Linked DNA regions of Homo sapiens. The protein of the gene in region 4 interacts with the protein of the main gene of each other region in a pairwise test. Each region holds a gene or a part of one and is shown on either strand. Other genes may lie near its edges.

The links.
Region 1: the proteins of MAP4K2 (region 4) and SERPINA4 interact in a two-hybrid assay, tested with the Homo sapiens proteins (one large-scale study listed by BioGRID and IntAct).
Region 2: the proteins of MAP4K2 (region 4) and DEFB1 interact in a two-hybrid assay, tested with the Homo sapiens proteins (one large-scale study listed by BioGRID and IntAct).
Region 3: the proteins of MAP4K2 (region 4) and PRDX4 interact in a two-hybrid assay, tested with the Homo sapiens proteins (one large-scale study listed by BioGRID and IntAct).

What each region holds. Positions count from the first base shown.
Region 1 is NC_000014.9:94,564,442-94,567,423, reverse strand, and holds part of SERPINA4 (kallistatin isoform 2 precursor), read right to left. Parts: intron 455-2,982; coding exon 181-454; intron 1-180. UniProt on the Homo sapiens protein: Inhibits human amidolytic and kininogenase activities of tissue kallikrein.
Region 2 is NC_000008.11:6,875,137-6,879,182, forward strand, and holds the start of DEFB1 (beta-defensin 1 preproprotein), read right to left. Parts: upstream 2,801-4,046; 5' UTR 2,722-2,800; coding exon 2,661-2,721; intron 1-2,660. UniProt on the Homo sapiens protein: Has bactericidal activity. May act as a ligand for C-C chemokine receptor CCR6. Positively regulates the sperm motility and bactericidal activity in a CCR6-dependent manner.
Region 3 is NC_000023.11:23,673,993-23,677,492, forward strand, and holds part of PRDX4 (peroxiredoxin-4 precursor), read left to right. Parts: intron 1-997; coding exon 998-1,114; intron 1,115-3,500. UniProt on the Homo sapiens protein: Thiol-specific peroxidase that catalyzes the reduction of hydrogen peroxide and organic hydroperoxides to water and alcohols, respectively.
Region 4 is NC_000011.10:64,785,209-64,790,461, reverse strand, and holds part of MAP4K2 (mitogen-activated protein kinase kinase kinase kinase 2), read left to right. Parts: coding exon 1-68; intron 69-187; coding exon 188-274; intron 275-502; coding exon 503-573; intron 574-676; coding exon 677-732; intron 733-837; coding exon 838-925; 3' UTR 926-5,253. UniProt on the Homo sapiens protein: Serine/threonine-protein kinase which acts as an essential component of the MAP kinase signal transduction pathway.

The sequences.
Region 1 (2,982 bases), on a different chromosome or scaffold from region 4:
CATATTTTAAATATAACAGGAGAGTTCATCATTTAAAGGAAGCCCATGGAAGTTCTCAGAGCAAGTGAGAATTCTCTCATAATTTGGTGTTCACTCTCTATTTTGGGGCACTGTCTTTCATTAGAAAGTTACATTTGATGGATAGTACTGTAGATTCAGCCCCCATAGCACACTGATTACCTCTTCCGCAACAAGTTGTTCCACCTCATTAGCATCTCTGGAGTCAGAACCTCTTCAATCTCCCTCATTTTGCCTTGGTTAGGGAGAATGAAAAACACGGTTGCGTCTCCTTTGTAATCCATCCGTAGCACCGAGCAGGGCAAGTATCTGTCATGAAGATACCAGTGATGCTCCTGGTCCTGCAGCATCATGGGCACCCGGACTGTTGTGTTCTCATCAACATAGAAGTCTTTGGGAGTGGTCCTTGAGGAAATGAATGGTTTCTCCCACAGGGCTGAAGGGAAGATGAAAAGAAGGTACAGGACATCTGCAGGCCACAGAGCTAGTCCTCCAGCCAGGGAATGCCATCTGGTGTTCTGAGCTACAGAAACAGTCGCTCCAGATCCTGCCCTATGAGCCCATCAAGATGTCCCATTTTGACCATTCAAAACCTGACATGCCTGGGGAATGGATCCTTTAGGCCTCATTTAAATTTTAAAATGAGAGATAGCAGAGGATGTTCGTTTTCTAATATGTGAGTAGGATTGATAGAGAAGAAACAAGGGGTGCTGGAAAGAGAGTTTCATTGTTAGGTGAGCATCCTTGAGAAGGAGAGAGGAGATGGCAGAGTGTGAGCAGAGGGGTCAGCCTTCCATAAGAGGTGGGTCACTACTGCCATGATGAGAGGAGGGCATCTGAGCTTGTGGGTTCAAATGCAGGGAGGCGAGTAGATTTGGAGGTGAGAAGATTTGGAGGTGAGTAGATTTGGAGGTGAGAAGATGAGAGATTTCCTGTTTAACTGATTCTGTTTTCTCAATGAAAAGTGAGACAAGATTGTTAAGTGAAAGTCATGAGTGGGGAGGACATTTGAGAAGGACGAATCTGTTATTATAGTTGTTTTGGAGAGTGGAGATATGTAGGTAGGATTGCTGGACAGTGTAGAGATATCAATGAAAATTTGCATTCACAAATATCAAGTGAGACCATCAGCCCCGTTGGATGTTTTTCTTCAACCACATTCAGCTGCTGGGTGCAGATGTAGACTAGTTAGACCTTTAGGTTTAAGCAGGTTTGCAGCTTTGGAGGGTAAGTATGATAGAGGGAGGGAAAACCAAGGAAGTTAAGAGTTCAGAGTGTTTGCAAGGAAGTGACCACAATGATGGCCATGGAATCGCTGCAGTGTGAGGAGGGAAGCAAATACAGGAGGCGATGTGCAGTGAGGTGGTGGCAGGTAGGGTGAATGGACTAAGGCCTCCATGCCAGGAATTTTAGTCCAGGGAATAGCAAGGGATCTGGGATTCTAACCAATGTCTTCCTGACAGTGAAACCCATACTACTGTTTCTCTTCCTTCCTTAGTTAATTTTTTTTTTAAAGTTTAAAAGTTTTGTTATTTCAAAGCAAAACTTTTTTTTGGAGATAGAGTCTCATTCTGTCACCCAGACCAGAGTGTGGTGGCAAAATCTCAGCAACCTCCACTTCCTGGGTTCAAGCGATTCTCCTGCCTCAGCCTCCCAAGTGGCTGGGATTACAGGCATGTGCCATGAAGCCTGGCTAATTTTTTTTTTTTTTTTTGTATTTTTAGTAGAGACAGGGTTTTGCCATGTTGGCCGGGCTGGTCTTGAACTTCTGATTTCAATATCCACCTGCCTTGGCCTCCCAAAGTGCTGGAATTACAGGTGTGAGCCACTATGCCCAGCCTCAAAACAAAGCTTTTTTAAAAAAACTTTTCAATGGTTCATGAAAATTCCACATGCAAATTACATGGGATGACTAATTTGGCTGAATCATTAGGCTGGGAGTTGCTCCCTAGAATTTTGTTCCCTGTAGATTTTGGGTTCAAGCTGGTTAGAACTGTGAGATTTCGAAGTAGATTGCCCTCTGAAGGCCCTGGTAGTCAGATATGATGATGGTCAGACTCAGCAGTGCTCTGTGTGCTCCAGTTTGCCCTGCTTGTCTCCAAGCTCATTTCCCAAGTCTAACCCCACTAAACAACAGCAGCCCCAGGCTACCACAGAAACTATGCAGTGATGCTCCCCTCCATGGCAGCACTCTGATGGCTGGTTGAGCCTGGCATATAGATTCCCCTCTAAGCTCTGACTTGTCCGCTTACATTGGCAACTTTCTCTCTGTCCTTCCAACTCTTCTTTCCTCTAGACCTTCACTTTCCCAGTCGCAATTGTGTGGGGCCTAATTCCTATAATGATCTCCTTACCATTGACTTGAGGTGGCTCTCCTTCTCTGATGAAACCCTGGCTAATACACACCGTACAAAGTTGTTTGCACACTGCAAAATCAACTGTGTGGACATATATGTGTGTGAATGGAAGGTGAAGAAAAGATGCTAAAACATTAACATTTGTTGCCTCTGAGTGGTAGGACTAGAGATTATGTCTACTTTCTCCTTTATGCTTTTACATATTTTTAAAGCTTCAAAATGAGCATTGTTATCATTAGATGAATTATAGTTGCTATTTATTGAGTACATAAAATGGTCAGGGGTCAACAAACCAAAAGGTTTATAGAGATATTAACTATTTTAGGCATTGCAGATCATTCAATCTCTGCAGTAATGAATCAACCTGCCATTGTAGCATGAAGTCAGCCACAGACAATACATAAATGAATGGGCCTGGCTGTGTGCCAATAAAACTTTATTTACAAAACCAGTGGCTGAACACATTTGGCCCATGGGCTGTAGTTTGCCCATCTCTTTAGACCCTTTTCTAAGGAGTATATACATGGGTTAATCATTTGATCCTCAAAGCCAACCTTTGAATTAGAGACTTGTCTTATCCCTGCTTTGAGCAAACAAGCTGACCTGT
Region 2 (4,046 bases), on a different chromosome or scaffold from region 4:
AATGTAAAAAGAAAAAGGATAAGCTTTTAGAAGACAATATTGGGGACTATCTTCATGTCTTTGATGTAAAGAAAGTCTTCTTAAACAAGATAGAAAGTGCAGTAACCTTACGGAAAAAGACATGACACATTCGACTACATTGAAATCATGATAAAAGCCTCTTTTCTAGGAAAGTTTCCATTAAGAGAGTGAAAAATCAAAACACAAAGCAAGAGAAGATATTTGTGATGTATATAATTGACAAAAGGCTTGCATAGAAAATACATAAAGAACTACAAACCAATAAGAAAAGACAGATAATCCAAAAGAAAACATGGACAAAAGACAAACAGGTATTTTACAAAAAATAACCCAGTTGCCTGTAACTATGTATAAAAGGGCCCAACTTATTATTTATCAGGGAAATGCAGATTAAAACTCCAGTGAGCTATTGCTACACTCACCAGGTGGTTAAAATTTAAAAATAATTGATGTTATCAAATGTTGGCAAGGATACAGAGCAAGAGGAACTCTTATTCACTGCTTGTGGGAGTGCAAGTTGGTGTAAATAATCTTGGAAAACAGTTTGGCATTGTCCAATACAATTGAATATATGCATAGCCTATGATCCGGTGATGCAACTTTTCAGCATGTAGAAATAGAGGCATAAGGGCACCTACTGGCCAATAGAAATGTGTGCACAAACCAAGCTGTACTATTCAACCTGAATATTAATTAGTGTGGCAAAAGTGTAAAGAATATGAAAAGTTACCACCATAAAAGTCAAGTGAGTGATTATTCTTGGGGGTAGGAGGGAGTTGTGACTGGGAAGGCTCGAGAATAGCTTCTCATAATTCAATTTAGATATAATAGACTGAAAACAAAAATTCTTTATGTTAACAAAGTGCCTTTCAAACCCTTTTGAGTTTGGACTGAACCACCATCAGAAAGAAATTTCTCACTGCTACTCAGTAAAAACATATGCACACACCCCAAACTGAAATATGGGTGTAATTAAATAGCATCTACTTTTACTACATGGCATGAAGTAATATTTTCTATTCCTTTAAAAAAACATGGGCTGGGCGTGGTGGCTCATGGCTGTAATCCCAGCACTTTGGGAGGCGGAGGCAGGCGGACCATGAGGTCAGGAGTTAAAGACCAGCATGACCAGCATGGTGAAACCCCGTCTGTACTAAAAAATACAAAAATTAGCCAGGCTTGGTGGCATGCACCTGTAATCCCAGCTAACTCAGGAGGCTGAGGCAGGAGAATTGCTTGAACCCAGGAGGTGGAGGTTGCAGTGAGCTGAGATTGTGCCATTGCACTCCAGCCTGGGTGACAGAGCAAGACTCCATCTCAAAAAAACAAAACAAAACAAAACAAAAAAACACGGTAGGCTGAGTGGAGTGGCTCATGCCTATAATCCCAGAACTTTGGGAGTCTGAACTAGGAGGGTTGCTTGTGCCCAGGAGTTTGAGACCAGCCTGGTCAACACAGTAAGACCTTATCTCTACGAAAAAATAAAAATAAAAAAATTAGCCAGGTGTGGTGGTGCATGCCTGTAGTCACAGTTTCTTGGGAGGCTGAGGTGGGAGGATGGCCTGAGCTCAGGAGGCAGAGGCTGCAGTGAGGCGAGATCACACCACTGCACTTTAGCCTGGGTGACAGAGTGAGACCCTGTCTCAAAAAAAAAGCAAAGCAAAAACAAAAACCAAAAACCAAAAACCAAAAAAAAAAACAAAAAAACAAAATCCATTGTAGCAACTGGCAGCATGAAAAGTTCTGCATTTAGAATGCTTTTGTACTCAGCTTTCAGATGGAAAAACTGAGGCATAATTGGAATAAATTAAGCCTATCTGCTGGATACAGTGATGGCCTAGAGAAACTTACAATAGGATCTTACAGAGACTTTCTGAACTGGAGTGCTTGCTTTCAGGATCATCCTTCCCAGCCCCTCATTCTGCAGATGAATAAACCAAGGCTTAGCACCATGTGACTCGTGTGAACAAGGATAGGGCTGGGATAAAACATGTTCCCGATTCCTCCTGCACGTCCCACCATCATGTCAGGGTCATGGCTGCTTTGGCCCAGAGAAGCTGACATACACCTGGCTCACAGGAAGCCCCCTCCTATTGACTGGGGAGACTGCTAACCTGGAGAATGTGGATGCATTTCTCAGGAGAGGGAGAGGACCGCCTGCCTGCACAGGAGGTGAGTCCAAGGCACCGGCTGAGCTGGCCTGATGGGTGGGGCGGCAGCACCTCACCTGTACCAGGGCACCCCAGGAGGCTGCACCCAGTGACGTGGGCTGAGGATGGGGCCGGCCCCTCTCTCTGCATAGGAAGCTGGCCTCTCAGTGTGAGGAGTCGTCTTGCAGGGGAAGCAGCAATCTCATCCACATAGGATACTGTCTACATGTCCAGGACAAGGATGCAGGCAGCTGCCTGTGACAAGCGCCATGACCCTGCCAGGCTCACTCCTTGGCGGCTCACAGACCCTGAAGGCTTGGCAGGGCTTGCCTGCTGCCTTCTGCCAACTGCAGGCCACTCAACCACGGGATGCTTTCCTGCTGCTTGTTCCTCGTCCCTTGGGACACGGAGGCAGCCATCCGAGACTCACATCAGCCCCATTGTCCCCAGCCCTGGGGATGGGAAACTCTTGCAGGTACCAGAGCTTACCTGAGGCCATCTCAGACAAAAGTAAGCAGAGAGTAAACAGCAGAAGGTAGGAAGTTCTCATGGCGACTGGCAGGCAACACCCAGGATTTCAGGAACTGGGGAGACGCTGGCTCCTTTGGAGGCTGAGCTGACAGAGGCTTCCAGAGGCTGGAGCGTCACTGTATTTATAAGACTGGTGGATTGCACAACCTCGTCGACGGAACTGAAGGGAGGTGCCACAGTCAAGGGTGAACTTCTAATCGCTAACCCCTGGTGTCATTTGCCCTGAGCAGTCAGCAGTCACATGGCACATTGTCTCCATCTGGCTGCCGCTGGATTTAGCTTTCAGCCTGGAGCCCTGGTGCCAGCTCCTCCTGTTTGGTTTTCTAGGTTAGGCAGTTCTGATGGGGTTTCTGGAACAGGCAGTTCACACTGGAGTCCCTCCTTCTGGATCACATGGAGGAGAGCCACAGGGAAGCTCTGAGCAGGGGGCCGCTCGGCTCTAAGCTGGTGTTGGCCTCTTTAGTTTGATTGTCTTCCTGCAAGACAAACTCAAACTTCACCCTCTTCCCTTGCAGAAGGAGAGCTGGTTGTAATGAAGTTTCTTCCTCTGGCCAAGGCTACCTTCTCATCTCTCCCCTTATGCAGAACACTCTCCTCGATGGACCAACTTTTCTCTTTTCCCACTAGACGTGTTCCTGGGACGTTTCCAAAGGGCACTCCTCAGAAAGTGAGCCCCCAGTGTGGCCCTTGGAGGGTGAGGGTCTGGGCCAGCCTGGGCCCACCCTGCAGAGCTACAACTGCCAGATTGGGGTGCTGTTAGCGACTCTCCAAGTATCCCTCAGGTTTTCCTTGATTCTAAAGATTTAAGAAACATTTTATTTATTACTGATTTTCATTGTAATTCTGTGAGCAGCTTTCCTGATGTCTCAGTGGCTTATTTGCAAGCAGCAGACGCTGGCTCTCGCTGACCAAGGAAGGGAAGAGTTTATTCGGAGGATATCAGGGTTGGTGGGGGGTGGTGGCATTGCTGGAGAACCCAGCTTGAGGCTCAGTTTCCAGGAATGACATCCACCCTACACTGTCACGGTGGTCCAATGAGAACCCCATACTGCAGCCACATGGCATGAGACACCCAGAGTGGAGTGACCCTCAGCCACTCTACCGCTGGCAGAATGCCATTCTGCACCCAAACATGAACCTGCCGTATACTCCCACTTCAACCCTGCCAGAGAAAGACAGAGAGAGATCCAGAAAGATGGACAAACAAAAACAGAGACAGAGGAAGAGACAGAGACATGCAGAGAGACAGTAGAGAGACACAGAGAAACAGAGAGATAGAAACAGACAGAGAGAGATGGAAATAGAGAGAGAGAGAGAGATAGAGAGAAATAGATTCAGAGAGAC
Region 3 (3,500 bases), on a different chromosome or scaffold from region 4:
GTAGGAAATACATTTTTCGTTGTCAGCCAGTACACAGGCACATATATATACGGTAACATTCCATCTGGATGCACCAGCACAGCCATGCTCCTTAAAATACTGAAAAACCCTCATATCATGTGGTAAATAGCCACTTCCCTTTCCTCACCAACTAGTTAGTCCTCCTGCCTGATCCCTTTCAGAAACCTCCAGAACTAAAGCCAGCTTTGAGTTAAGATTGTTAAATATTTTGAATATCATCACTGTTGAAGACAAACATATATATTTGTATATATAAATATGTGTTTCATAATTTACCCTTAGTATGTATGATAGAGTCTCCTGTTTTCTATTCGATTTCACTTTTTAAAAATATTTTTTAGAACTCAGTTAATTTAAGGAGTCCCTACCACGGTTTGAAAAAATGCCACCCTAGTAATATTCTGTAAACATGGCCTGACAACATGAGGGTATTAAGGTATAAAATCCCTGGCTGCACAGGACTGGTAGACAAGGTGGAAGAGGACCTTATCAAGAAAGGAGGGGTGGGGGTACTGGAAAACATTGCCTCCTCTCCAAAATACACATAGATGCATCTAATTCATAGGGTTGGTATAGGAATATTAAAAAAAAAATAGTGAAATGACATAAAATTTGTATAGATCCTTTGAAAGCTATAAAATACTATATAAATAAAAGGTATTATTAAATAAAAGTAATAAAATGAGGGGTGGCTATTGCTATAAGGGAGAAGGGAACATTGGTTGACTACTGATCTATTAAGTTGTAATAAGAAAGTTTATTGAGATGTAGTTGGGAACTCTGTAATATGTTTCTGTCTTAAATATTTGATTAAATGACAGTCTTTTAGACTACTCCATTTTGAAAAGGTTCAAATATAAAATTGTTCTTAATGTGCATTTTTATTATTAAAGGTATTTGTAAAAATTGTCATTTGAAAGTTTAGGTATATGCTTATTTGGAGAATACTGAATATTTTTTTTTTTTTACCTTTCAGCACATTTGTGTGTCCAACTGAAATTATCGCTTTTGGCGACAGACTTGAAGAATTCAGATCTATAAATACTGAAGTGGTAGCATGCTCTGTTGATTCACAGTTTACCCATTTGGCCTGGTCAGTATCTTACACTTATATTCGTAGAAAAAAAAGAATGGATTTACTCTTAAAGCATGGACAGATAACTCTTGATATGATATAAGAATATAGTCATTTATCAGACAATTCAGGAATAGCTTTATCTAAGAGTAATACATGTAACTACACATTTTCCAGGTTAAAAAAAGAGAGAAGAGTAATATAATCAGCTGCTATAATAAAAATGCTTAAGGATTTTATAGGACATTTCAAAATAAGGGGAAAAGTTAAATGCAATAGATGTGATTTCTATAGCGAAAACCACTGAATTATATGCTTATGATAAATTGGGTTACCATAATCTGGAGGAAAAAAATCTTTAAAATATGCCATTTCTCTGTTACACAGTTATATAGTCAAACTCAGCTTTTACAATTTTGAAGAAACAATACTTTTTAAAAATGAATTTTAAAAAATGTTTAAAAATTCATTAATCATAAAAAGATGTTTTACCTAAATTCGTTATAAAGAATTGCAAATTAAAATGACGAGATGCCAATTTTCCCTGTCTGGTTGGCCAAGATTTAAAAGATTGAAAAAATGTATCCACTGTGGACAAAAATTGAAGAAACGGCACTCACACACAGCTGTTTAGCATTTCTGGAGAGCAGTTGGGCAACATGTCTCAAAATTGGAAATTTACATGTTAATATGAGTTTTTATAGTGTCCACAGTCTTGTGCAGAAAACTTTGTGCACAATAAAGACCATTCAGAATTGGGCTGGGCACAGTGGCTCATGCCTCTAATCCCAGCACTTTGGGAGGCCGAGGCAGGCAGATCACCTGAGGTCGGGAGTTCGAGACCAGCCTGACCAACATGGAGAAACCCCGTCTCTACTAAAAATACAAAATTAGCCAGGCGTGGTAGCAGGTGCCTGTAATCCCAGCAACTCAGGAGGCTGAGGCAGGAGAATCACTTGAACCCAGGAGGTGGAGGTTGCAGTGAGCCGAGGTCACGCCATTGCACTCCAGCCTGGGCAACTGGGCAATGAGAGTGAAACTCCATCTCAAAAAAAAAAAAAAAAAAAAAAAAAAAAAAAGATTCAGAACTATTGGTTTTAAAACATAATATTCAATTTATTAAAGTTACAAATTTGAAACACAAGCTTTTCTCATTTATAATCTGTGTGTGTATAACAAATTTTCATTGCTTGGTGAGCTACAATTTAATTAATTACATTTCCCTAAGAAATTAATTCCCATAAGTATTTTTAAATGCAGTTATATATTTAATATATTTGAATTCCTTAAGTATCTCAATTTTCAGACAAACCTTCCCAAATACTTAAGTAGTTCTAATATGCCAAATTCTCTTAAACATTATAAATAACTTAACATATAAATATGTACTGATTATTTCTTAATGTAAAAATATTAAAATAGCCTGGCATGGTGGCTCACGCCTATAATCCCAGCACTTTGGGAGGTCAAAGCAGGAGAATCATTTCAACCCAGGAGTTCAAGACCAGCCTGGGCAACATAGTGAGACCCCATCTATACAAAAAATAAAAAAAATTAGCCAGGTCTGGTGGTGCATGCCTGTGGTCCCAGCTACTCGGGAGCCTGAGATGGAAGGATGACCTGAGCCTAGGTGGTCGAGGCTGTAGTGAGCCAAGATCATACCACTGCACTTCAGCCTGGGCAATAGAGTGAGATCCTGTCTCAAAAAAAAAAAAAAAATTAAAATATAGGCTTAATTTGCTTCATCATTTCCTTTAAAAAAAGAAAGACAGGGTCTTACTATGTTGCCCAGGCTGGAGTGCAGTGGCACAATCAATCATAGCTCCCTGCAGCCTTGAACTCCTGGGCTCCAACAATCCTTCTACCTCCCCAAATAGTTGGGACTGCAAGCTTGCACCACCATACCTATTTTAATTTTTATTTTTGTAGAGATGGAGTCTTGCCATGTTGCCCGGGCTGTGCTTCATCACTTCTGTAGTAATTATAAATCTTCCGAGGATTAAAATGCATATCCACTAAGGAAAAAGTTATGGCATCCCAAATAATTTGGGATTGCTTTCCCAAGGAAATTTGGGGATACATTCTCAGCCTGATAGGGTTCACATCAACCAGAAATTTCTACTTGGGTGTCAGAACTGGGGCTCCAGATATCTAGAGCAATGTCGTTTTGTTTTCTATCTGCTGTGTCAGTACCCTCCTGTTAGAGCATCAGCCCATGTCTCCTGGTTTCAAGTTACAGAATACAGATTGAGCGTCCCTAACCTGAAATCCACAGTGTTCCAAAATTCAAAATTTGAGTGCTGACATGATGCTCAAAGGAAATGCTTAGTGAAGCATTTCAGAGTTCAGATTAGGGATGTTCAACCAGTAAGTATGCAGATATACCAAAATCGGAAAAAATCCT
Region 4 (5,253 bases):
GGGGATCCCAGGCTCGGCCCAGCAGGTGATCCAGGTGGACAGGGACACAATCCTAGTCAGCTTTGAACGTGAGTGCCCTGGGGGCAGGGCTTAGGGCAGGGGACTATGGAGGTAAGGCGACCACGTGGGTCTGCCTTCCCAGAAGGGAGCCTCCCCGTCCCCACTCACCAATTCCTTCCCTGTGCAGGCTGTGTGAGGATTGTCAACATGCAGGGCGAGCCCACGGCCACACTGGCACCTGAGCTGACCTTTGATTTCCCCATCGAGACTGTGGGTGAGTGAGCCAGAGGTGGGGTGCAGGCCTTTCCCTGGCCTGGAGCACGTTGTTGCTCAGGGGCCTGGGGCTGGCGGTAGGATGAGGAGGCAGATCCCCTAGCCCCTCTCCTGAGCCATCCTGGTCACCTGAGGTCAGTGAGGACCCCTGTGGCCCAGACCCAGGCTCAGGCGTGGCTGAGGGGGTGCCAAGATGGGTGCAGGGCTGATGGTGGCCTGGCCCCCATAGTGTGCCTGCAGGACAGTGTGCTGGCCTTCTGGAGCCATGGGATGCAAGGCCGAAGCCTGGATACCAATGAGGTGAGTGGGGCCCAGGGACCTTGCTGTCCCCTGCCTTGTGGTCCCTACCTCTTTGGAAAGGACCTACTGGAGTGGCCTCAGTGCTTCCCACCTGTCTTCCCAGGTGACCCAGGAGATCACAGATGAAACAAGGATCTTCCGAGTGCTTGGGGCCCACAGGTAGGCGGTGGTACCCTAGCCTCCCCTTCAGATGCCCCTGAGGCCAGAGAAGGGGCTGATGTACCAAGTGTCTCCCGCCCTGCCCCCTACTCCTCTCTCCTCCAGAGACATCATCCTGGAGAGCATTCCCACTGACAACCCAGAGGCGCACAGCAACCTCTACATCCTCACGGGCCACCAGAGCACCTACTAAGAGCAGCGGGCCTGTCCAGGGGCTCCCCGCCCCACCCCACGCCTTAGCTGCAGGCCCTTTTGGGCAAAGGGGCCCATCCTAGACCAGAGGAGCCCAGGCCCTGGCCCTGCTGGGGCTGAAGGTCAGAAGTAATCCTGAGAAATGTTTCAGGCCTGGGGAGGGAGGGGAGCCCCCGACGCCTCTGCAATAACTGGACCAGGGGGAGCTGCTGTCACTCCCCCATCCCCGAGGCAGCCCAGTCCCTAGTGCCCAAGGCAGGGACCCTGGGCCTGGGCCATCCATTCCATTTTGTTCCACATTTCCTTTCTACTCTTTCTGCCAAGAGCCTGCCCCTGCATTTGTCCTGGGAAACACGGTATTTAAGAGAGAACTATATTGGTATTAAAGCTGGTTTGTTTTAGTCCTCTGGTCCCTCTGGGTAGGGGGAGTGAACCCACCTCATCTCCCGCCTCCTTCCCTCCAACACACGTTTCTGTGGGCACCACAGAAGGGCAGGGCCCCCAGGGTTTTGGAGAAGCCAGGTAGAGGTGACAGGAGGCCATGGCCCCCAGCAGCCTTCTAGGGGCACTGTGCCTTCCCCTGCATCCTTGCTCAGAACTGACCCTCAGCTTTGCAGTTTGAGGGCTCTGCTGTAGTTTAGCACCCCAAGGACTCATGCAGATGGGGGGACCTCAACAAAGGGACTCTCATCCAGGGCACCCTTGCCCCACGTAGGATCTCACTGGGTGACCCCTGGAAGGGCCCAGGAGGAGCCCCCAGAGGGCTGTTCCCTCCATTCCCATGGAGGCTGCTGCCCATGGAGGTAGCCTGTGTGACCTGTATCCCCTGCCTCCACCTACTGCCTAGGTGTTAGACCAGGAACATCAGATGACAGCACGATCATCAGATTGGATGGGAAGGCTAGCCTGTGTCCGTCTACCAGACTCCCAAGGGCTGCCTCAGTGCCAGGCCCTGGGGTCACTACCAGAAACAGACCAGCCCCCAGGGAGGGCGTCCTCCTTGCTGGAGCCTGCATCTTGAGGGCATGGCCATTCTCCTGTAGCTTGTGCTTACGCTGTCATTCTCCAAGGGTCTGTCTGCTCAGCTCTGAATGCCAGGGCCCCCAGGGCTGGGCATCCTCTTTTGCCCCAGGCACTGATCAGCCGCTCTTGACTGGAGCCTTTGGGCAGCTGCAGCCCAGGAGGCAGGATGGGAACTGCCTTGAGGGCCCACAGCTGGGGGGCTGGGAAGGTGGGGGCAGGGTGGGGGGAACAGCTGGAGCAAAGGCCCCATGGTCACCCCTACATTCAAGGCAGGTGTTGGAGGAAGACCTTTGCACCTGGTGGGTGGCAATAAAGACTTGCGGAGTGACGTGGTAGGTGGATGGCAGCCATGCGAGTAGGCTCAGTGGTTCCCAGGGTGTCACACTGTCCCCTCAGCCACCCTCCAGCAGAGTTTCAACTGTTCTGACTCTGTCCAGTGACTGGGAGGGTTTCTTGGCTGGAATGGGGAGCCAGCCCAGGGGAGGGAACACATCTCTTCACACCAGGCATTCACACCCATGTTCCCGTGAGCCCCAAGGAGGGTGAGGGGCACCTTCCAAATTGGGGTCGGTGGTAACAGGGATACAAAGTGAATTCCTAACTTCCAATTTTCCAGATTTCTCGGAGGAATGTTGGGACCAGGGTGGGGTAAGTGGGGACAGGGAGGTGAGCTCCTGCTCAGCAAAGGCCCTGACCAAAGGCGCCCTGGGGAGGACTGGCTTTCCGTTCACCAACCGGCCAGCAGCAGACAGTGCCTCCTTGTGGCGGATCTTCCCGGACCTCAGATTCAGTCTGGAAACGGGGTTTGGACTGCAGAGTGTAAACTGCCAAAGTGGGGGCCTCCCATAAAACGCTTGCTGCCAGCAAAGGCAGGCCAAGAGCAAAGAAAGGCCGAGAAACCAGGGAATATGCACTGAGAGACTAACACTTTAAATTTTATTTATGTATTTTTAAATGCGTAACCTTTGCCCATGGTACATATTTTTTTAAATACAGCAGAGATATAATGAAGTCTCCCTCTTACCCCGTCCCCAGCCACCCTGGTCTCAGTTACTTATGAACCCTTCTAGAAGTATTTTGCGTATTTAAGCAATTTGGTATATTTTATTCTTGGCGATTTTTTATATACGTATTAACATATTCCACATACTGTACTGACCTTGCCCTTTAAAAATATATCCTGGGGGGCCAGGTGTGGTGGCTCACACCTGTAATCCAAGCACTTTGGGAGGCCGAGGCGGGCGAATCACGAGGTCAGGGGTTCGAGACCAGCCTGGCCAACATGGTGAAACCCCGTCTCTACTAAAAATACAAAAAATTAGCTGGGCATGGTGGCGAGTGCCTGTAATCCCAGCTACTCGGGAGGCTGAGGCAGGAGAATCGCTTGAACCTGGGAGGCGGAGGTTGCAGTGAGCCTAGAACATGCCACTGCACTCCAGCCTGGGCGACAGTGCAAGACTCCGTCTCAAAAAAAAAAAAAAGAGAAAAAAATATATATATATCCTGGAGAATATGAATGTATTAAATTATCACATGCACCCTGAAAAGATATGTATATATCCTGGAGAGTTTTGCGTTAAAGATCTCCCTTTAAAAAAAAATTTTTTTTTTTTTACAGCTAGTGGTATTCCATTGTGTATGTTTCCCATAACAAATGTTAATGACCTGCAGTGAGATCCCTATTGGTGGAAATTTGAGTTGTTTTTACTACTTTTATATTACAAACAATGCTGCAATAAATATTATTAGGCTAGTGCCCCTCTGTACATATTCAAGCACTTCTAGAAGATAAGTTCCTGGAAGCAGCATTAATGAGTTAGCGGTGGCTACATATGCCGTGGTGATAGCTGCTGTCCAGTTGCCCCTCCATGGGCAGAAACCTGTGGGAGGGTCAGACCAGACTCTTTAAGTCATTCTTGAGGACAAGTAGAAGGGACGTGGGCCCCCCCAGGATGTTCAGGTAACTGGCCCATACCCGGAGTCATCCTGGTGAAAGTCAAGGGGAGCACCATGATGTGTGCTTCGGGACGGCGGAGGATCTGCCGTGTTCCCTGTGGCATGTCCAGCACCTGCTCACTACCAGTGCTCAGGAGACCCTCACGAGTAAGGGAATGGACAAGATGTGGTGAAGAGGAGTCCCTGCAATCTGCCCTTGGACTGGGTGAGCCACCCCAGCTCGCTGAGCTTTACTTTCCTTAGGTTTACCATATCCAAAGCCAACTGCAGGGCTGTCAGGAGGATCAGAAATACTGTAACAGACATAATGCAATAACATAGATGACTCTTAGAGGTAAATTAAAACAGCACTTTATGCACAGTACGATAGCATATTATAAAGCTCAAAAACAAAATGAAACCATCTATTGTTTAGCAATACATGCCCAAGATACAACCCTATTAAAAAATCATGGGAAGGAAAAGCACAAAATCTGAGATGGTCGTCCCTGAGAGGAGTGTGGGATGGGATAAGGAAGGAGCCCAGGAATTTTTAAAGGTATTGGTAATATCTTAGCTCTCAGGTTTGGTGGTAGGTTCATGGGTATTTAAGTTATAACTCAGTTCCTAACTCACATAAGGTGCCACACATCCTTTTGTATGTATCAAATATTATGTCATAAAATTTTAGTTTGGGCATGGTGGTTCATGTCTGTAATCCCAGCACTTTGGGAAACTGAGGCAGGCAGATCACTTGAACCCAGGAGTTCTAGACCAGCCTGGGCAACATGACAAAACCCTGTCTCTACAAAAGATACACAAATTAGCTGGACATGGTGGCACTCGCCTGCAGTCCCAGCTACTCTGGAGGCTAAGGTGGGAGGATTGCTTGAGCCTAGGAGTTCAAGGCTGCAGTGAGCTATGAACTTGCCACTGCACTCCAGCCTGGGTGACAGAGTGAGAACCTGTCTCAAAAAGAAAAAAAAAAAAAGGAAAAAAATTTTTAAAAAATATTTAAAAGTAATCACCGAAAAAATAGAACTCGCTTGAAAGACAAGACCAAAAACGAAGAGGACGTTTCCCTAGATGGTGAAAACAAGTGGGGCGGAATCACTGCAGCGTCCTGCACAGAACTCTGGAATTGCCACTTTGCAGTTGCTGCCTTCTAGTGTGTATTGTTGAAAGACAGTTTTATTGAGGCATAATTGGCATACAATAAGCTGCATATAAAAATGTGTACGTGATGACTTTTGACATACGTGTACACCCGTGAAGCTATTTCCACAATCAAGATAATCACCATCCCCTTCACTCTGGAAAGTTTCCCATGCCCTTGGTAAGCCCACCCTCCTGCTTCTTGCCTCCCATCCC